Linked DNA regions of Homo sapiens: regions 1, 2, 4 and 5 are each linked to region 3. A link means that fine-mapping ties the variant in region 3 to the expression of a gene that starts in the linked region. Tissue or cell type: whole blood. Region 3 holds a variant in brackets; each other region holds the start of a gene. Each region is shown on its reference strand, or each on the opposite one. Region 1 holds the start of MYL4 (myosin light chain 4). Region 2 holds the start of ECSIT (ECSIT signaling integrator). Region 3 overlaps IKZF1 (IKAROS family zinc finger 1). Region 4 holds the start of OPTN (optineurin). Region 5 holds the start of B4GALT3 (beta-1,4-galactosyltransferase 3).

Region 1 (4,154 bases), not on the chromosome of region 3:
CTCTTCTTCAAGTGCCGTCATTCCTAGTCCTAATTCTGCTGCTGCTTGTGCTGTGCCCATCCTGTCTCATCTCCGAGAACTGACCTCCATTCATGAGGACCCAGATATGGCAGCCATGAGCTGGGGATAGGTTGGGGCAGTGGGGAGTTAACTGGGTTGGAAAGAAAACTAGTTGTGGCTAGGAATAGACTGCCAAAAGTAGGGGGTGGTCAGAAAGTTAAAGGAACCCCCTAGATGGGGTGAAGGATGCTCTGCATTCACTCTCTGAGGAAAAGGCACAGTTTGCCTTACTTTACAATGCTTTAAGAACCAGGAATAAACATGTAAGAGCAATTAATGTAAAAACTTAAAATCTCAATAGACGTGGTCCTAACTACACACACTGGGCTTAAGTTTGCTTCTGTTCTATCTTCGAATCTTTTTTATAATTTATTTATTTATTTGTAGAGACAAGGATCTTGCCATGTTGCCCAGGCTGGACTCAAATGCCTGGCCTCAAATTACCCTCCCGCCTCAGCCTCCCAAAGGGCTGGGATTATAAACATGAATCACCTCATCTGGCTTCTCTTCTGTCTTGGAGTAAAGAACCTTCTAATCAAAGGAACTGGGTAAGTATAACACAATAATAGGGAAAATGTCTCTCATAAAAGATACCTATTTTTTTTCTACTTCAAAGCAACTTCAACAACCCCCATGAAGATGCAGATATGGAAAAGAGGATTGCAACCAGGGGTGCAATTTCTCACGGGTGAGAAATTGAGAGAGGAGAGTGAATGAAAGAAGTGACAGGCCAAGGGAAGGACACCAGTTTGATGCCACTAGGCAGCTGTTGCCCAGACACCAGGGACAAGGCCTGGCAACCCACCCAAAGGCACAGTGCTTTATGGGAACAAATCAGAAATAAAGGCGAGGAGGGATCCTGAAGGGTGAAATAGTCAGCTTTTCCTGCCAGGCTCAGCTTGTAAATGGAGTGATGTATGACCTAGAAAACCTGCAGGTGTTTTCAGGGTCCTACAGTAGCCTCAGTTTCCCCAGAGTGAGCCATAACCAAGCTCAGAAAAGGGACAATTGCCTCCATCTCTTGGCTAAGCAGTTCCTGTCCCTTGCGGGGACTGGGTCTTTGGCATAATACTTGTAGGGTTATCCCGGCTGTGGGTATGAGAGGAATTCTCAGAGGGCAGGGAGGTCATACAATTAGAGCTCTGGGTTTTAATTTCCCTGCCTGCTTGTCACAGAACCTTGTCCTGTGCTCTTATTTTGACCTGATCCCTCACCACCCCCAGCCCTGTCCTAAGGCTGAGATCCCTGGGGGCTCAGCACTCCCAACCTGTTATTAATAGCTCTTCATACCAGTAGCCACTTGACCTTTTCCACTCTGGTGCCAAGGCTTAAAACTGCTCCTCTTCAGAGGTCTCTGGCCCCCTCCCTCTTCAGCCCACCCCTCTCCCACCAGTTCCATTCCTTCAGCAGCTGGGCCAGAGAGCTGGGAGGTCTAAAATGACTGAGTCAGCATGCAGGGCCCACACCAGCTCCAGGGAGAGGAATGTTTTGTGTGAGGAGAGCAGGGTGGGGCAAAGGAACCAGGCCCAGCTTCCTGACCCGGTTGGAGAGAGGGTCTCAGCCCAGGGTGGGCCAGTCCTCTGCATGCTACAGATAGGAACCCAGGCTAAGGCCACAGAAGGAAAGGCCCGTCTGGGTAAGGAAAGAGAGAGAGGAATCCGGGCTCCTCTTACCTTAACCACAACCTCCTTCCCACCCTGCCCTCACCTGCCGTAAGAGTGTTTGTGAGTGAAGCCTTTCCCAAACTGCCATGCACAGGGAGGATATTCCCTGACTGTTTATATCACTTACTCCAAGTTACACTGGCAGCTGCCATGATCTGTCTGTTCTCCATAAAGATATCCCACTACCTCCTAGGAAAAGGCTAGTCTGTTTTACTTTGCTATGGTGGTCCTCATAATGCCTTATAAAAGGGTGGATGGATGGTTGGTTGTACCTCCCCCCATTCCCAACTTAGCTGCACAAATCTAGGGTAGCAGGACAGGGCTCCCTCAAAGCAGCACCTCATTCTTGACGGAAAAGGTTTATGACTCAATCTCCCCCTCATCAGCCCCAACACCCACTCCACTGCCCCATGGGACTGCGATCTGGGGCATGGACACCCTAGTCCTCATCCCAGTCCAGCCCACATAAAGTAGATCGCTAAGCTCCAGAGCAAAAGGACTCTCAATGTCATCCCCACCTCTATCCCAATGGCTGAGCCTCACTTACCTTTACACTCTTGGGGTCAAAGGCAGGTTCCTTGGGAGCCTCAGGAGCTGGGGCAGGGGCTGGTGCAGGGGCTGGAGCTGGAGCTGGAGCTGGCTTGGCTGCCTCCTTCTTAGGCTCAGGCTTCTTGGGAGCCATGTTGTCTTGTTGGGATCTTTGGCAGAGGAGTGATCTAAGAAGAAACCGAGAGACGTGGCGTCTGGGAGATGAGATAGGAGCCTGGGCTGCCTCCCTTCCCTTTTATCCTGGGCAGGAGCCCCCACAGAGGGGCTGGGTGAAAGCAAGAGCAACTGCTGCTGACTATAAAAGGAAGAAACGCCAGCAGGGTACAGCTGACAACTGTGTATTGTCACCAGGTTTGGGGCCACCAGCCCCCTCCCCTTCATGCCACAGCTCTCTCTTCACCTCTAGGACAGGCTGATCCCTTCTTGCCAATTGGTGGAAACCCAGAAGGACCAGGGAAACAGACCTTCTCAAATATGCCGGAGCAGCCAGAGAGATGAGCTGACTTGAGCAGTTGATAAGCCTCACACAAAGCCCAGGGGAGGGTGAGGCTTTTTTTAGCCCCTCCCGAGCAGAGGCAGCCCACTGCACATTCCTTCTAAGCCAAGATCCTTTAAGCTGAGAGCCACTCTGGGCCCTCAGCTCTGCCTAGAGGCCCAACTCTCCAGGCATGGAGCTCTGAAGCAACAGCTGGTCCAGCCAACCCACACTGCCCCACACCCTCCCAACTCACAGGATGAAAGCCTCCATTTTCCAGAGCAGGCATCCCAGGAACTCCACAGACCTCAGATCCCTAGATCTACCCCCTTACACACAACCTCAGTCATTCATTCAACAAGTAGTGAGCACTGAACCCATGCCTAGGCACCTAGGAGAGAAGCAGAGAGATGTGGTAGAAAGTCGAGGAGACTGAGGGTCAGAAAACTTGGGGTTTAGTTTTCACTTTACCTCTAACTCATTCTGTGCTCTGTGTGTGTGTGTGTGTGTGTGTGTGTGTGTGTGTGTGTAGTGCTTACTACTATCAGTACCAGGAACTGTTAAGTGCTATTCATATAAAATCTCATTAAATCTTCACCATGATCCTATAAGGTAGATACTATTTTGTTTGTTTGTTTGTTTTAACAGAAACAAGGTATCGCTCTGTTGCTCAGGTTGCAGTGCAGTGGTGCAATCACAGCTCACTGCAGCCTCGTCTTTCCTGGCTCAAGCGATTCTCCCACCTCAGCCTTCCGAGTAGCTGGGACTACAGGTGCACACCAGCACACTTGGCTAATTTTGGGGGAGTTTTTTTGTTTTTTGTTTTTCAGTAGAGATGAGGTCTTGCTAAATTGCCCAGGTTGGTCTTGAACTCCTGAGCTCAAGGGATCCACTAGCCTCGGTCTTCCAAAGGGCTGGGATTATAGGCATAAGCCGCCACGCCAGGCCAGGTAGATACTATTATTATTTTCACTTTACACATGGGGAGATTGAGACTAAAACTGGATGAACAACTTGGCCAAGGTCACTCAAATAATTAGCTATAAGCTGGGATTAGATGTAGATATGTCTGAGTCTAAAGCCTATGCTTGAATAATGTATATGATAATCCAGTTGTCGGGGAGAGACATACAAGTTTCTGCATTTATTGGAGGAGTCAGGATGGATACACGCTGAACTGTTAACAGAGACACCTCTGGGGACCTAGGGGGTAAGGGTGGGAGGATAACAGCAATTTGCAGTTTTTTACTTTTTTCACTTCCTGTATTAATGGAAATTTTTATAACGAGCATTTACTGTTTATGTAAAAAAAACTTTGAAAGTCAACAAAATAATTCAGAAAAATAACAACAAAAAAGCTTATGTATCCACTACACAAAACTGCTTTGTGCTGAATCTTTAGACTC
Region 2 (4,160 bases), not on the chromosome of region 3:
CCTGTAGTCCCAGCTACTCGGGAGGCTGAGGCAGGAGAATTGCTTGAATGTGGGAAGCGGAGGTTGCAATTAGCTGAGATTGCACCACTGCACTGCAACCTGGGCGACAGAGCCAGACTCCGTCTCCAAAAATAAAATAAAATAAAATAAAATAAAATATTAAAAGACTAGTTCTGGAAGGATAAATAAGAAAACAAAAGCCATGACCACCTCAAGAGAAGGACACCAATAACTCTGAAGGCCACAGCCAGGTCAGCGACCCCATCATCTTACCCACTCCCCAGCTAAGCAGAGCTGACTCTGCTTGCTTGTAGCTGCGGGAGCCTGGCAGAGGGCAGTAGCGCTCCCAGCCGCTGCCCACGTGCCTGTCAACTTGCCAGAGAGGAGTGCTCCAGCCAAGCAGCTGATTGGCTACAGGTTTTCTCAGATTGCCCAATCACAAGAGTTCTGATGAGGTGGATGTCCTGCGGCTGCGCAGAGTCCTTGAGGCATCCTAAGGGTAGGTTCTTGCATCCTAGTCTCCATGCCAGCTCACTGCGCCACAGAGGCTGAGGGACTGCAGAAATGGGCTTATGAGGGCAGATAGCCTTCCTTCCCGGGGGACACTGTTATTGCCAATAGCCCATTTTATGTGCTTATCCACCTTAGTTATTAACAGCCTAAATCTGGTGCTTTCTGGGGGAGACCAGGAGCCCCCATTACTCAATCTCACCTCGTTTTATCCCATTTCCTCCAAAGACTCCACTCCGACCACACAGAGTCTTTGCTGTTGTTCCCAGTGCCAAAAGCGTTCCCCAGATATCCAGATGGCTCACTCACTTCCTCCGGCCTTTACTCAAAGGACACCTCACTGAGGCCTTCCTATTTATTTATTTACTGAGACGGAGTCTCACTCTGTCGCCCAGGCTGGAGTGCAGTGGTGCTATATCGGCTCGCTGCAACCTCCACCTCCTGGGTTCAAGCAATTCTCGTGCCTCAGCCTCCCGAGTAGCTGGGATCACAGGAGCACGCCACCACGCCCCACTAATTTTTATTTATTTATTTATTTTTTGAGACAGAGTCTCGCTCTGTTGCTGAGGCTGGAGTGCAGTGGTGTTATCCTGGCTCACTGCAACCTCCGTCTCCCGGGTTCAAGCGATTCTCCTGCCTCAACCTCCCGAGAAGCTGGGATTACAGGCACCCACCACCATGCCCTGCTAACTTTGTATTTTTAGTAGAGACGGGGTTTCATCATGTTGGCCAGGCTGGTCTCGAACTCCTGACCTCAGGTGATCCGCAGGCCTCGGCCTCCCAAAGTGTTGGGATTACAGGCGTGAGCCACCGCGCCCTGCCCTATTTATTTATTATTACTATTTTTAGAAACAGGGTCTCACTCTGTTGCCCAGGCTGGAGTGCAGGGGTGCAATCATGGCTCGCTGTAGCCTCGACCTCCAGGGCTCAAGCGATCCTCCCGTTTCAGCCTCCCGAATAGCTGGGACTATGAGCATGCGCCATCATGCCCAGTTAATTTTTAAATTTTTTGTAGATAAGGGGGTCTCGCTATGTTGCCCAGGCTGGTCTCGAACTTCTGGCCTCCCAAAGTGCTGGGATTACAGGCATGAGCCACCGTACCGGCCCCCTTTCACTTTTTGTTTTTTTTTAATTCATTTTCTCATTTCAGCCGCTGGGGCCTGCGACTGGATTCATAGACTATGACTCCCAAGTCCAGCCTCCCGGGCCATTTCAAGGTTCCCAGGTCTGGAGTGCGTCTTGCCTCATTAGAGGCTGGGCCTGGCTCGTTATGAGGCGGGTCCCAGATCCTTCCGCCTTCCTATTGGCCCACCTCGCGTTGTGGGCGGGACCTATTACACCAGCTTTCTTGATTTGCTACCTCCCTGGAGCTCCCTGACCCGGACGCTCTCTGGGCCAATATGGCAGCGCCCAGCAACAAGACAGAGCTGGCCTGGAGTCCGCGGCTGGCCGCGTGAGTAGGTAGGTCGCGCGCGGGTAGGCGAACGCGAACTGCTGGGCTGCAGGCGGGCCCTTCAGGACCCGGCAGCGCGAGAGGGCAGCCCTGGAGGGACCCAGCTGCAGGGCCAGGGCGCCATGACCTTTCGTAGTGGGGGCGGGGACGCGCTGGGAAAGGCCGCCTGTCTTGTGCCAGCCGCCTCACGCCCCCAGTCTCCCATTTTGCAGATGACCTCGCGAGAGGTCACGCCGCAAGTCGGCAACCGGGCAGGATTTGGAATCCGCGTCTGCCTTTTTCCCCCAAGAGACCCAGAATCCTGGCAGCCGGTTTCAAAGCTGTTGTACGTACACCATACCTCGGGGTTCAGATTTATAGGTGTTTTTTTGAAATTGAGGCTTGTTTCCGTTCAGTTGTTACTCGTTAGGCATCTGTCATATACCAGGCACTGTCCTTGGTGCTGGAGACACAGCAATGAGGAAGATAGATAAAAATCTCTCATCTCCTGGGGGAACCAGACTTTGAACAAATTAGAAATAAACGAAACAGGTGATTTCAGATACTGATAAGTTACTAAAAATGCGTTAATGGTGTCGGGAATTTCGCTTGAGCCCAGGAGTTTCGAGACCAGCCTTGGCAACATAGCAAGACCCTGTTCTCTACAAAAAATTATCTGGGCGTAGTGGTGCACGCCTGTAGTCCTAGCTACTCGGGAAGCTGAGGTGGGAGGATTGCTTGAGCCCAGGAGGTTGAGGCTGTAGTGAGCCGTGATTGTGCCACTGCACCCCAGCCTGGGCAACAGAGCAGGACCCTGTCTCCGAAACAAAAATTAATAGGGTGATGAGGGCTTTTAGAATGTGGGGAATGGGAGATGGTCAAAGAAGACCTTTCATTGAAATGACCAGAGACAGCTGTGGGCAGATCTGGAGGAAGAAAGCTCTAGACAGAGAGAAAAGCAAGTACAAAGGTTCTGAGATGGGATAAACTTAGTTTCTTTCAGAAACAGTGTAGCTGAAGCTGCCAGTGGTAGGAGTTGAGTTTAGAGGGGTAGACCCTATCTGATTTTATTTATTTATTTTTATTTTTTAGAGACAGGATCTCACTTGTTCGTCAAGCCTGGAGTGCAGTGGTGCAGTGCACTCCATAGCTCACTGCAGCCTCAAACTCCATGGCTCAAGTGATTCTCCTGCCTCAGCTTTCCCAGTAGCTGGAACTACAGGTGCACACCACCAGGTCCAGCTAATTTTTTAAAATAATTTTTGTAAAGATCGTGTCCTGCTATGTTGTCCAGGCTGGTCTTGAACTCCTGGGCTCAAGCGATCCTCCCCACTTGGACTTCCAAAGCACTAGGATTATAGGCATGAGCCACTGCTCCCTGGCTATTTATTTATTTTTAGAGACAGGATCTCAGTATGTTGCCCAGGCTAGAGTGCAGTGGCTATTCACAAGTGCAGTCATGGTTCACTGCAACCTCTAACTACTGACCTTAAAGGATCCTCCAGCCTCAGTCTCCTGAGTACCTGAGATGACAGGCATTCACCACCATGCCTGGATAATTCTTAATTTTTTTGTAGAGATGGGGTCTCTCTATGTTGCCCAGGCTGGTCTTGAATCCCTGGGCTCAAGTGATCCTCCTACCTTGGTCTCCCAAAGTGTTGGGATTACAGGCATGAGCCAGTGTGCCCAGTCTCTGATTTTAAGTGTGATATGCCGTTAGCGATTTTAGGCAGAAATCACTAATTTTAGTTGATTTATTTATTTATTTAGCGATGGAATCTCGCTCTGTCGCCCAGACTGGGGTGCAGTGGCACAATCTTGGCTCATTGCAACCTCCACCTCCCAGGTTCAAGTGATTCTCCTGCCTCAGGCTCCCGAATAGCTGGGATTACAGGTGCCTGCCACCACACCTGGCTAATTTTTGTATTTTTAGTACAGACGGGCTTTCACCATCTCGGCCAGGCTGGTCTTGAACTGACCTTGTGATCCACCTGCTTCAGCCTCCCAAAGTGCTGGGATTACAGGCGTGAGCCACAGCGCCTGGCCTAATTTTAGTTTAAAAGCTCCCTCTGGCTGGGTGTGGTGGCTCACACCTGTAATCCTAGCACTTTGGGAGGCCAAGATGGGTGGATTGCTTGAACTCAGGAGTTCGAGACCACCCTGAGCAACATGATGAAACCCCATCTCTACTAAAATACAAAAAATTAGCTGGGTGTGG
Region 3 (4,000 bases):
AAGATAACATCTACCTTCTTGTCAACAAAGACCTCAAGACCCATAGGATTAGCTACAACCAACCAACATTCACCATGTTTCCCAGATGGGAAAAACAATAGGGCTAGTGCTTTGCAAGTCCACTGAAGGTGAAAAAGAAGGCAGGAAAACGCCTTCAGTGCCTGCAAACCGTGAGTCTGTACAGTCTTCCCTTCAGCTCCAAATGCCCCTGGCAGACACTTACTCTATCTGGCAATGGGGTTGAGTGGACCTTCCGAAGCGCCTCACTTACCCTCATGGTGTTTCAGGGATGAGTGTCAGGTCGAGGGACAGTTTTGGTTGCTTCAAATGGGACATGTCAGTGATGGCCAAAGTCACTATGCTTTACTTCAAATCCCAGCTGTTGGAGCTACCTTCCAGAGCAGATGATTTGGAGAACTTGACAGAAGATTAGGAAAAACCAATGTCTGGCCCTTTCTCTCTTCATGTAGTACAACTAGGCACCAGTCCTATTTTTGTTTTTGTTTTATTAACACAATTTTAATTGTTCACAGTGAACTAATTAAGATAGAAAAAGCTCCAATTAATACACCTATGGCTTAGAAAGGGAGAAATGGGTACTTCTAAAGAGTACAAGAAAGGAAACAGCAGGTTCAAAATGATGGTTCTTTTATGGGATTAGCTTTTTTTTTCTTTTTTGAGATGGAGTCTTGCTCTGTCACCAGGCTGGAGTGCAGTGGCATGATCTTGGCTCACTGCAACCTCCTCCTCCCGGGTTCAAGTGATTCTCCTGCCTCAGCCTCCCGGGTAGCTGGGACTACAGGCGCGCACCACCATGCCCAGCTAATATTTGTACTTTTGGTAGAGATGGGGTTTCACCATGTTGGTCAGGATGGTCTCGATCTCTTGACCTTGTGATCAGCCCACCTCGGCCTCCCAAAGTGCTGGGATTACAGGCGTGAGCCACTGTGCCTGGCCAGGATTAGCTTTTAAATGATTGTTTTGGTGCCATGTGCAATCTTCCTGGATCCTGAGGTTGGAGCATTTCCTCAGCTGCCCTGCTAGGCCTGTTTCATGTCAGCCAACTTCCGGGTCCAGGATCTCCATATAACAATTTAGGGGAAAACATTCAACAGGTTGAAGAACAGGCTTAGGGATATTTTCCCAGTGTTGTAACCTTCTTGCTTACTCTTTTTTGGAAGAAATACTACTTTTTTGTAAAAATGATATTTGCTGATTCTAAAGACACTGAGTAGACAGAAGCACTATGATGGCACCTCTAGAAATTACCCCCAAGTTTTATAATTTAAGGAGAATCATATGCAAAGAAGAAAATGCAAAAATGATAATGAGAACGGGGTAAGAAAGCTTGGTTCATGCTTTAAAAGGAGAAGGGAAAGGGACATTCAGGCAATCAAGAAAGGCTGAAGAAAACTAAGAGGGCTGGAGGAACAATGATTAGATAGGAAGGCTCTTGTCAGGGATCGTGGCAGGGGTGAAGAGTGTGAGGTCCTCAATATAAGTGAAAAATGAAATTTAATTTTGTCATTCCAAATTTTATTCTAATAAGGGAGATTTGTGCTGGATCACTGGGCCAAAATGATAAGGAAGGGAAATGCTACAAAATAACTGGGCTGCCCATAAGAGTGTGGGTCACACGGCGGGCAGGAGGGGCTTGGGGTGTGTGCATGGAGAGCCACCTTTCCATATCTAGGCCCTGTCAGGACATGCTGGGGCAGCGCCGGGCAGAGCCACATGGTGATGACTGGCTGTGTTCCCTGCCACATGGAGAGGAGAGGCACAGCAGGCAGTGCGGAAGGGACGACATGGGGCTGCGGAGCTCGGCAGTCGTCAGAGTGTCTGCAGCGTGGGCCACAAGGCAAGAGCCTTTGATCAACTGTTTAGCATGTGCTCTAGCTGATGTAACTGCACACGTGTTTTAGATGTGGTTTTCCCAGTAGCACACTCTTACAGAAGCAACAGGTTAAACTGTTGCTGCCGGTGTAAAAGGGAGTTCGGCAAAGTGAAGGACTAAAGACTGAAGGAAATGTTTTGACTGTTAAGCTGGACTTGGCTTCCTGAAATGGGGTTATTGTATGTGCATTTCACACGTTCTTGAGGTGTAGGACATATCACTTCTGACTTCAAATGAGAACAAACATGCAAAGAAAGGGCTGAGGAGTTTAAATCCATTTCTGTGGCCTTTGTCCACCTAAGCGATCAACTGAAGAGAACTCTGGAGGCTGTGCTCAGCTCCTCCTCAGGCTCTGCAGACAGACACGGCCATTC[C/T]CTCTCATCCCCAGGGCTGGCAGGGTGTCAGCCTCAAAGATTCCAGAAGCCCAGGCCCTGCTTCAGGGAGGCCAGAGATAAGTAATCTCCCCCAGGACACACAGAGGGTGGATCCTCTGCTGTCCCTCCCTTCCAGAAGCCCAACGGGTCCCTGTCAGAATTCCAAGCAGAAGGTGACTCAGCACAGAGGAGGAGGGATGGGAAGAACAACTCAGTTGCCCTCTTAATCCCGCCGCTCTCGGCCATGGGTACAGTCCTGCACACTTTGTGTCTTTAAGTGGTTGCTAATCTTTAAGGAAGGGGTATTTGTGTAATACTCTGCTGAGAAATCCTGGGGAGTCAGCCAGCCTCTGGTGACCTGACCCCACTACAGGTGGAGGTCAAGTCTTCAGTCCTGCCTTGGCAGTTTCTTCTGCCTTCCTCCCAGAAAGTGGATTTCTCAGGCATGAGCTCAAGCTGAGAGTCTGGTGATGGTAAAGATCAGAGTGCAGGCAATCTGGCATAACTGTAGCTGAACTGGCTGTCTGCAGAGGAAAGCAAGGGGCTGAGGAGCGTGGAATTGGGTGGGTGCATCTGGTCTGGTGCACTGGTGCACACACATGTGTACATGAGTGACCACGTGTGCACGTGTGTACATGTGTATGTACATGTGCAAATGACACACAGAGATCGCCCTTTCTACACATATATTTAAAAAGGCAGCTCAGTAAAATCGACTCACAGGTAGAGAGTCCATTATTTACTGTGACTTTTCCATGCAGAAGGACAGTGGTGCGGCCAAATAGGCAGCAGTCTCCACTGTTCGGAATGTCAGATCAGCTCCTCCTCACTCTGCGCACATTCCCCCGCCTGCCAGCTCTGTGGGCAGAAGGCTGCAGGAGTCAGATCTGGTCTCTACAAGACTCAGAAGTCAGGATGAAATTCATGTTTCCTCCATTTCTTAACAAAGAAGCACACCTGTAGAGATTTCTGAGCAAGGAATTGTGACTTGTTGCAGAATTTATTTTATTTTATTTTATTTTTTGAGACAGGATCTTGCTCTGTGGCCCAGGCTGTAGTGCAGTGGCTCGATCACAGCTCACTGCAGTCTTGACCTCTTGGGCTCAAGCAATCCTCCTGTCTCAGCCTCCCGAGTGCCTGGAACTATTGGAATATGCCACCATGCCCAGCTAATTTTTGTATTTTTTTGTAGAGACAGGGTTTTACCATATTGCCTAGGTTGGTCTGAAACTCCTGAGCACACATGATCCTTCCACCTCAGTCTCTCAAAGTGCTGGGATTACACGTGTGAGCTACCGCACTTGGCCATAATTCTGTATCTTGATAAGAAACTCACAAGTGGCTGTGAGAAGACATAAGGAAGGAGATGTGGCTACTTTAAGCCGTTTAACGTTTCATGTAAACTTATGTCTAACCAGGGAAAAAAAACTCCAAGGACTTTGTAATATATAGTTCTCTTAAGAAACTCTTTAAGGCTTTTTTTTTCTTTTTCTTCTTTCCCTTCTCTCTTCCTCCACCTCTCCATGGTCGTCTCACTATTTCCTAAAAAGCCCCGTGCTGTATAAATGCTAGGCATATGTTATTTTATTTAGCCCTTACAATAAAGCCTTGGCTTGTGAGTGATCAGCATTGGCTGCAGCACCCTGCCTCCAACCACCTGAAGGTGTTTACAGACGGCCTCTGCCTCTGAGTAGCTCTGGAGTCCGAGCCATGCACAGGACATCACCAAGCC
Region 4 (4,089 bases), not on the chromosome of region 3:
CTTAAATATGATGTCCTGTGTCATATGAACTGTTCCCTACTCCGAGCACCCAAGAACACTCTGCATTTCCACCTCCTCCGCCCATTCTGAAATTACTGCTATCGTCTGCCCGTCTATTTTCTCTCCATGTTATTCTTACTAGAGACTGGCACATAGCAGGCTTGCAGTAAATGTTGGTTGAAATGAAATGAAAATATAGCATAATGAGGTATTTTTAAGTCTAATACCTGTAAAATGCTTTCTGCTGTGTAGGTGACAAACTCAGCATGCCAGTATTGTTAGGAGTTTCTCCACAGTTCCACGGCATTCACTTCCAGATTCTCAAAATCCTCCTTTCTAACTTATTTGAAAAATTAGAAGTGTTTTCTGTCACTGCAAAGCCATCTGGGTATCACTTCATAACACAGATTCTAATGCTCCTCATACACATGTCAAAGTGGAAATAACAAAAACTTTTAATTTTTTCTTTCTAAATGAAATATTTTTTTAAAAAAAAGTTTAATTTTTTTCTTTTTCCTTTGGGTTTTCTATTTCATAAATTCCAAAGAACATATATCAAATATGCCAAATCTCTATAAAACAGAAGGTGTATTTCATGGCCAGAATACTTATGCGCCTCTACCTAAGTAAGGGCGGGGGTTCGGCAGGACATAATACAGTGTCCAGTTGCCCTCGAGAATAAAGTTTGGTTTTCCGGGGGTGGGTGGGGGGGTGGGGGGGTGGAGGTTAGGTTAGTTATATTCCTAGCATAATATGCAACCTAAAGGTTAGTTTATAAAAAAAGAAGCTGTTACTTTTATTGTGTTGTACGTAATATATAAAGAACGCCTAAAATTGGCCCAGTGGAAAAACAGATGAATTATGCCAGGACTTAAATCAATGATCGTCCTCTGTCTACAGGTCACATTTAAACTTGCCTTGTCCACTCCAGGGCAATCCCTGGCCTTGGGGTCTGCCCTGGGACTTCTCCAGCCCCCGCCCCAAAACTGGGCCTGTCCTGGGAGGCAGCCTGGCACCACTAACTCTTCTCTCCCTGGGTCAAAAGAGCAAGGTGGGTTCTTCTGTTCACACAGCCTGCACCTTGCTAACCAGATCCAAAGGCTTCTGAGGTCCTCACATTGCCTTACTTTTCTATGCTTTCATTTTCCATTTCATCCTTACAAACAGTTCCTTGGTGTACATTTCCATACAACAGTTTTCCTGCTGGTGGAGGCCAGGTCGGAACCTGGGTTTCATTTTCTTTGAGCGATGTTTACTTCCTGTAGCTTATGCATTTCGATGGCAAAAACAATTCCTTTGGGGTTCTCGGCCTCATCAAATATTCTCTCTATATAGAGTGTACACACTCTCCTAGACACAGCAGTCTATGTGGATTCCCACCGACCCTGGGCACCTCATTCAGCTCGGGTAGTGGTCCCATGTCTCCCACAGGCGTGTCTGTAACCACCTCCTTATGGCGAGGAACTGGCTGCGGAATCCTTCCCAGCCTGCGGGAGGACGTCACCTCCAAGTCTCTGGGTGACTTGTAGAGGGGTTACCTGCGGCCAAGAGGCCGGCCCTGGACCCTTCTTGGGCCCACCCTGTGTTCACTACCCACCCTCTCCCACCAGGTCAGGACCCGCCGAGGCTTGGGGATCCTCCCAGGGCAGCCGTCTCGCGGGAGGGCCGCCCCACCCCTCGCCACCCTCACCCCGACAGGCTCCGGGCCGCGGGGCAGGGCGGCGGGTACCGTTTTCAGGCCGCGGAAGCGCCCGCCGGGAAGGAGCCGCCGCCCCCTCGCCCACCGCTGCAGCCCCCTGCCCTGGCTCACCTGCCGCCCGGCTTGGCTTCGCTCAGGGTCACTGTTTCCTCGGCATCGTGCCGCCTGGAGAGAACTCCCGACCGGGATGGGACGCTGACCAGGGAACCTGCCGGCGGGCGGCGGCGGTGGCGGAGGGGGCAGCCGGGACTGGGGTGCCTAGGGCTGATGCGCGGCCTGGCGACCCCGCCCAGCGCGGCTCAGCTGACAGCCAGCCGCTCCCTGCCCGCGCCGGGGAATTTCCCGGGCCCCGCCCATCCCATACCCCGCCCATCCCCCCCACCCTGCCCATTCCATACCCCACCCGACCAAGGCCCCGCCCCTCCTCTTTCCTGCGTCCGCCCCCAGCTACCCACCCTCGCTGTCCGTGCGGGGTCGAGGCTGGGACCCGGGTGAACAGGGACTGCTCTAAGGCGTCACTGTGACGGCGTTAATCAAAATAAATCATTAATCAAATGCAGTGTGCGGAGTTCGTCTTCCCCGTGTCTTCCCGCAGATCCCGTAGTGGAGGCTGGAGCCGCAGGGGGTCGCTGCCGCCCACAGAAAGAGGAGAATGCCAGGCATCCTCGGAGGGAGGCCTCCATCTGTGTTTTTTGAAAAAAGGTTAACATCTAGACATAGTTAACTGAGCATACATAGCTTTCCACTCGTTTTTGCTTTAAAATACACTCAAAAAGCAGAAAGCCTGCAGGATGCTTCTTGGGCTCTTGTTGCGGACGAATAGGCTCGGCTATTCTTGTTGCTGAAGAATAGCCTCTGCTGGTGTGGAGGAGGGAAGCTGCCCCCGGATTAGACAGCAGGATGACAAGGTAGGAGCGAGAGCCGCCCTATGTGCATCCAGAGTACCCGGGTAGCGCTGCAGGGATGGGAGGGAGGGAAGGAGGGAGGGGGAGAGAGAGAGAGAGGGAGGGACGGAGAGAGGGAGAGAGGGAGGGAGAGAGGGAGGGAGGGAGAGAGGGAGAGAAAAAAAACAAAACAACAACAACAAAACCTAATCTGAAACAGGAAAAAGGCAGATGCGCCCTCTCCTGGTATCTCCGAAGGATTCTGCTTCGCTGTCTGGACCTCCTGCTGCCTGGCCAAGCCTGACTCTCAACCCTGCCCCTGAGGCTAACCCCAAGAGCAGGGCAGAGAAGCAAGCAAGTCAGCGACTGCCCCAGACCCAATTCCGGGCCCTCGAGTTGGTGTGGTGTAGGAGGGGCAGATGAGGCTAGAGGCTGCTTTATAAGGAGTGAGCCTGGGGGTGGGAGTGGGGAGAAATAGAGAATTTAAAAAAATTCTTTTTATATCAGTGCAGGAGGGCCAGGCGCGGTGGCTCACGCCTGTAATCCCAGCACTTTGGGAGGCCAAGGCAGGCAGATCGCAAGGTCCGGAGTTCGAGACCAGCCTGGCCAATATGGTGAAAGCCTGTCTCTACTAAAAATACAAAAATTAGCCGGGCATGATGGTACTCTCCTGTAGTCCCAGCTACTCGGGAGGCTAAGGCAGAAGAATCGCTTGAACCCGGGAGGCAGAGCTTGCAGCGAGCCGAGATCATGCCACTGCACTCCAGCCTGGGTGACAGAGTGAGACTCCGTCTCAAAAAAAAAAAAAAAAAAAAAAAATCAGTGCAGGAAATAACTGATCATTCATGAAAAGGGCTTGGAAAAATATATACAGAGAGAAATGGAATGACGATCTCTAATTTTTGTTTATCTACTGGGATAATCCAGGCAGAAAAGACGGTGTCACAGCTGTACCCTGGGATCGGCAGAAAAGGGTCCCCCCGGGGCCTGTAAGGGGTGCCTGCGGTAAGTCGTACTTCACTAGGCTCCTTTTACTGTTTAAAACCCTATAGGTGGGGCACGGTGGCTCACACCTGTAATCCCAGCACTTTGGGAGGTCAAGGCAGGAGGATCGCTTGAGCCCAGGAGGGAGAGGCTGCAATGAGCTGTGATTGCAGCACTGCACTCCAGCTTGGGTGAGAGGGAGACTTTGTCTCAAGCAAAAACAAAAACGAGAACAAAACAACACTATGAAAGTGAATTAAAATGAGCATCAGTGAAACTCAGAGCCAAGAGAAGAAGGTCACCCACAAGCTGCCCATGGCTTTGGTGTGGGAGGCTCGAGGTGAGTTTCTGGTACAGAAAGCAGTCAAAGTTGTTTTCTCCTGATTCCTTGCTCTCAGTGGTGGGGTCGGGGTGGGGGGTGCCCTGAAGCACTGCACACACACATGCACACACACTCCCCCGACAACCACTTCTTAGCTGTAGGACCTTGACCAAGTTACTTCATCTTACCCTTCCTCATTC
Region 5 (4,154 bases), not on the chromosome of region 3:
AGGAGATGGTCTTTGTCAATACCAACATAAAAATGAACACATAGGCCGGGTGCAGTGGCTCATGCCTATAATCCCAGCACTTTGGGAGGCTAAGGTAGGTGGATCATGAGGTCAGGAGTTCAAGACCAGCCTGGCCAAGATGGTGAAATCCCGTCTCCACTAAAATACAAAAATTAGCCGGGTTTGGTGGCGGGAGCCTGTAATCCCAACTACTCGGTAGGCTGAGGCAGGAGAATCGCTTGAATCCGGGAGGCGGAGGTTGCAGTGAGCTCAGATCGCACCACTGCACTCTAGCTTGGGTGACAAAGCAAGACTCCGACTCAAAAAAAAAAAAATTCTCCTTGAAGACTGGGTATTTGGGAAAAAAAAAAAGGAAAGGAAAGGAAAAAAAAGAAGGAAGGGAAGGGAAGGGACGAAGGGAGGGAGGGAGGAAGAAGGGAAGGAAGGAAGGAAGGAAGGAAGGAAGGAAGGAAGGAAGGAAGGAAGGAAGGAAAAAGAGAAATAAAATTAAGAGGCCTGATGCTGTGGCTGACGCCTGTAATCCCAGCGCTTTGGGAAGCCAAGGTGGGCAGATAGTTTGAGCCCAGGAGTTGGAGACCAACCTGGACAACATGGTAAAACTCTGTGTCTTCAAAAAATACAATTAGCTGGATGTGCTGTTGTCCCAGCTACTCAGCTACTCACGGGTCTGAGGTGGGAGGATCCCTTGAGCCTAGGAGGTTGAGGCTGCAGTGAGCTGTGATCTTGCCACTGCACTCCAGCCTGGGTGACAGAGTGAGACCCTGTCACAAATTTTTAAATTAAAAAAAAAAAAGTAAACAAAAAGGCCGGGCGTGGTGGCTCACACCTGTAATCCCAGCACTTTGGGAGGCCGAGGCGGGTGGATCACCTGAGGTCGGGAGTTCCAGACCAGCCTGACCAACACAGAGAAACCCTGTCTCTACTAAACATACAAAATTAGCCGGGTGTGGTGGCGCATGCCTGTAATCCCAGCTACTGAGGAAGGCTGAGGCAGAGGTCGCGGTGAGCCGAGATAGCGCCATTGCACTCCAGCCTGGGCAACAGGAGGGAGACTCCCTCTCAAAAAAAAAAAAAAAAAGTAAAGAAAAAAGAAATTAAGAAAAGAATGAACACGTGTTTATTTTACCTAACTCATGAAGAAACTAGCAGATGTTATAATTAATACAAGAGAAAATCTAGAGAACGGACATATTTATGGATCAGGAAAACAGAAATGAATATGAAAATGGACGCCAAAACTGCTTTTTTTCCCCACAGTGTGGGGAACAGCAGGTTAATTGAACCTCTACCAGACAGGATAGAATTTGCATACAGATCAGTTACCTACATGAATTGTAAAATAACTCCCATGAAAACAGAATCTTTAAAGCAGAAGGATATGCTATAGACAAGTCCTTCAGGTTTCCCATTAGCCATCACTTCTGGGAAGCCTTTCTAGAATCTCCACGTATGAATGAGTTGCCACTTCTAGGCCAGCATATTTATCACGTTATATTGTTTACATCCCTCCCTCCATACAAGATACACAAGACCATGGGCTTTTTGGGGCAGATTCTGTGAGTTATTCAAGTCTCTGATTGCTTCTTCAGCGTGAATATCTGCTTCTAAGGAACACAATATGCTAGGCGGTAGTGTTTGTCGTAAGGTAAACATATTGCATGTTAACGGAGCATCCATTTTACTCTAATATCTGGGGAAACATCATTTGACTTTAAAGAAGACGCTGTCTTTCCCTCCACCTTCAATGTTTCATTGTTTTATTAACTAATCGCTTTTTATTTCCAGGCCTGCGGGATACAACGGGAATACAAAAATGCGCTAGAGCGGTCCGCAACGCTGTAGCCTGCGTAAGGAACAATTGATACTAAGTGGCACTAGGCTGCAGGGGGTGCCACTGACACACTGGGAGAGGGCTCAGCCAACCACAAGGTGATAACGAGGTCAGCGGAGCACCAGAAACCGGCTCACTAGCCTCCTGATCAGTCTCGGCCCAGAGGAAAATGAAGGGCTTGAGCTTCTGCTTTTACAAATCTGAGGGGCAGGAAATGAAATCCCACTAGCAGTCTGCGTAGTGGAGTTGAACCCTAGCACCCGCTCCCCAGGGGGTCGCCTACAACGCGTTCCAGGTGGGCAGGCTCAGGCGCTGCTCCCTCACAAGCCCCCGGCCACGCGGTGTCTGGGACCGGGTGCCTAGTCAGCCCGGGTGGCTCCGCCCCGAGGCCCCGCCCCATGACGCGAGACCCCGCCCCCGCAGCGCCCGCTTCCAAGATGGCGGCAGCGATGCCTGCCCGGCTGTTGGGGTGGCGGTGACGACAGGCAGCAAAAGACCAGGTATGTGCGCTGGGAATGCGTCGACACGGAGGCCTGGGATAAAGGTTTGGGCATTCGAGAGAGTGAGAAGTTTTGGGTAACGCCTGGAGACGAGCCTGAGCAGGGACGGGGTCCTAGGTGGAAGTATGGACGGGGGCCGGGCGGGCTCACGTTGCTAGTAGGTAGGGCAAAAGCAAGAGACTGGGATAGGATGGGCGTGCTCCGAAAGAGCTGGGTTTTAACCCCCTCCACAGCGCGGACCACGCCCCTCTAGGTGAGCCCTTCCAGCCACCCCTGACTGTCTCTGCCCCTGCTCTCCCTCTCCCTTTCTCTTCAGCAGTAACCCTCCTCCCCACCCCCGCTAGAAGAGGGGAAAGGTAGAAAAGGTAGAGGACGCCACCCCCACCCTACTCTCCGCCGAGCTCCGGGGCTGTTCGCTTACAGCCCCCAGGTGGTCACGGTCCCTGCACCTGAGGAGTTGGCACCCAGGCACATGAAGAATAGAAGGAGCCTGTTTCCTACTTCGCCCTGGGTACTCCTTAGGCCACTCCACGGTCCTGTCATGACTCTGTCGCCACTTCAACTGGTTCTTGGTCTGGGGGAAAACAATGTTTCCATTAGCTGTCCTGTCCCCACTCCCCAATCTGTCCTGTTGGGGTGGGGGTACGGGGGTGGTTAAGTATGAACCTGACACTTATCATTCCAGGGTAGCACGGGAGATAGGCGAGGGACCTACCATCTCCTGCTCCTCCTCTTCCTTTCCAACCACTTTCCTTCACTTCGCCTGCTGGGAAACCAGCTTCACCCTGATCCTGATCTCTGGCGGTGCAGGTAGCTAGTTATCCTTTACCACTTCTGTTCCAGCTGGTCCCAGATTCGCTGCTGGAGTGCTGGATGGAGCCTTTCTCTGCCCTCTGTGACATTTCCAATTTTAGATAATGCCTCACATCTCTGTCCCCCCGGGACCCCCTGGAGCCCCCATGATCCCTAAGAAGACAGCTTGAACCTAGGTGAGTCTATCTCTTCCCTTCTAAAATTGGAAGAGGGGGTTCTCTAGAGACTTTCTGAAATGAACATGAGATTTGAATGATGTAAACATTTTTGGGGGTGAGGACTGACAGTAGATGGTGGGAGTGGTTTGGGGGGAGGTAGAGGAGAGCGAAACTTGGGCTGAAGTGACAGGTGGTAGGGTTACTGGTGGTTACATTCTGTTTCCTTGCGTGACTGTGCACCTGTGTGCTCCCTTCTGTGACTTTGTTTTCTGCTTTTTCCTCTTTACCCCTGGCATCACCTTCAACCCTACCTACTGACCTCTCTGCTGGCTTGCTCTCTTCCTGCCTACCCCCAGAATTCCCCTCTCCCTCCCTAGATCTCACCCCCAGGATGTTGCGGAGGCTGCTGGAGCGGCCTTGCACGCTGGCCCTGCTTGTGGGCTCCCAGCTGGCTGTCATGATGTACCTGTCACTGGGGGGCTTCCGAAGTCTCAGTGCCCTATTTGGCCGAGATCAGGGACCGACATTTGACTATTCTCACCCTCGTGATGTCTACAGTAACCTCAGTCACCTGCCTGGGGCCCCAGGGGGTCCTCCAGCTCCTCAAGGTCTGCCCTACTGTCCAGAACGATCTCCTCTCTTAGGTAAGTGCAGGAGGAAGGAGGTGGTGAAAGGAAGGACAAGGTGCGGAGACAGGGAGGCTTGGGGATAGGGAGGCATGGAGTGGCAGAAGTGGAACTTAGAAGAGGATAGGTAGGCTGAGGCTGCAGGTAGGCTGAGGTTGAGATAGAGGGCTGAGGTTGAGATAGAGTAGACTCTGAATTGGGAGTT

The links. PIP is the estimated chance that this variant, and not a neighbour inherited with it, causes the effect. A credible set is the group of variants that fine-mapping cannot tell apart.
Region 1: it holds the start of MYL4, and the variant in region 3 is fine-mapped to the expression of MYL4 in whole blood (TOPMed, PIP above 0.99).
Region 2: it holds the start of ECSIT, and the variant in region 3 is fine-mapped to the expression of ECSIT in whole blood (TOPMed, PIP above 0.99).
Region 4: it holds the start of OPTN, and the variant in region 3 is fine-mapped to the expression of OPTN in whole blood (TOPMed, PIP above 0.99).
Region 5: B4GALT3 starts here. The variant in region 3 is the best candidate, but not a certain one, in a credible set for the expression of B4GALT3 in whole blood (TOPMed, PIP 0.84).

The regions. Positions count from the first base shown.
Region 1 is chr17:47,207,675-47,211,828 of GRCh38, reverse strand. MYL4 (myosin light chain 4) reads right to left here and starts at 2,481. Exons shown (of 7, transcript NM_002476.2): 1 at 2,272-2,481. The coding sequence starts at 2,406.
Region 2 is chr19:11,526,873-11,531,032 of GRCh38, reverse strand. ECSIT (ECSIT signaling integrator) reads left to right here and starts at 1,899. Exons shown (of 8, transcript NM_016581.5): 1 at 1,899-1,971.
Region 3 is chr7:50,358,553-50,362,552 of GRCh38, reverse strand. All of the region lies in intron 3 of IKZF1 (IKAROS family zinc finger 1), which reads right to left. Among named protein-coding and RNA genes, the nearest start is that of IKZF1, 56 kb to the right of the region's middle. RefSeq lists enhancers at 1,265-1,782, 1,783-2,302. The variant C/T (reference allele first, on the strand shown) is at 2,269.
Region 4 is chr10:13,098,024-13,102,112 of GRCh38, reverse strand. OPTN (optineurin) reads right to left here and starts at 1,950. Exons shown (of 15, transcript NM_001008212.2): 1 at 1,811-1,950. It also overlaps a transcript of CCDC3 not described here. RefSeq lists an enhancer at 1,165-1,294 and silencers at 1,575-2,144, 2,615-2,674.
Region 5 is chr1:161,175,621-161,179,774 of GRCh38, reverse strand. B4GALT3 (beta-1,4-galactosyltransferase 3) reads left to right here and starts at 2,268. Exons shown (of 8, transcript NM_003779.4): 1 at 2,268-2,352; 2 at 3,196-3,341; 3 at 3,701-3,967. The coding sequence starts at 3,715. It also overlaps a transcript of PPOX not described here. RefSeq lists enhancers at 441-942, 2,081-2,580 and silencers at 2,179-2,348, 2,559-2,608, 3,448-3,497.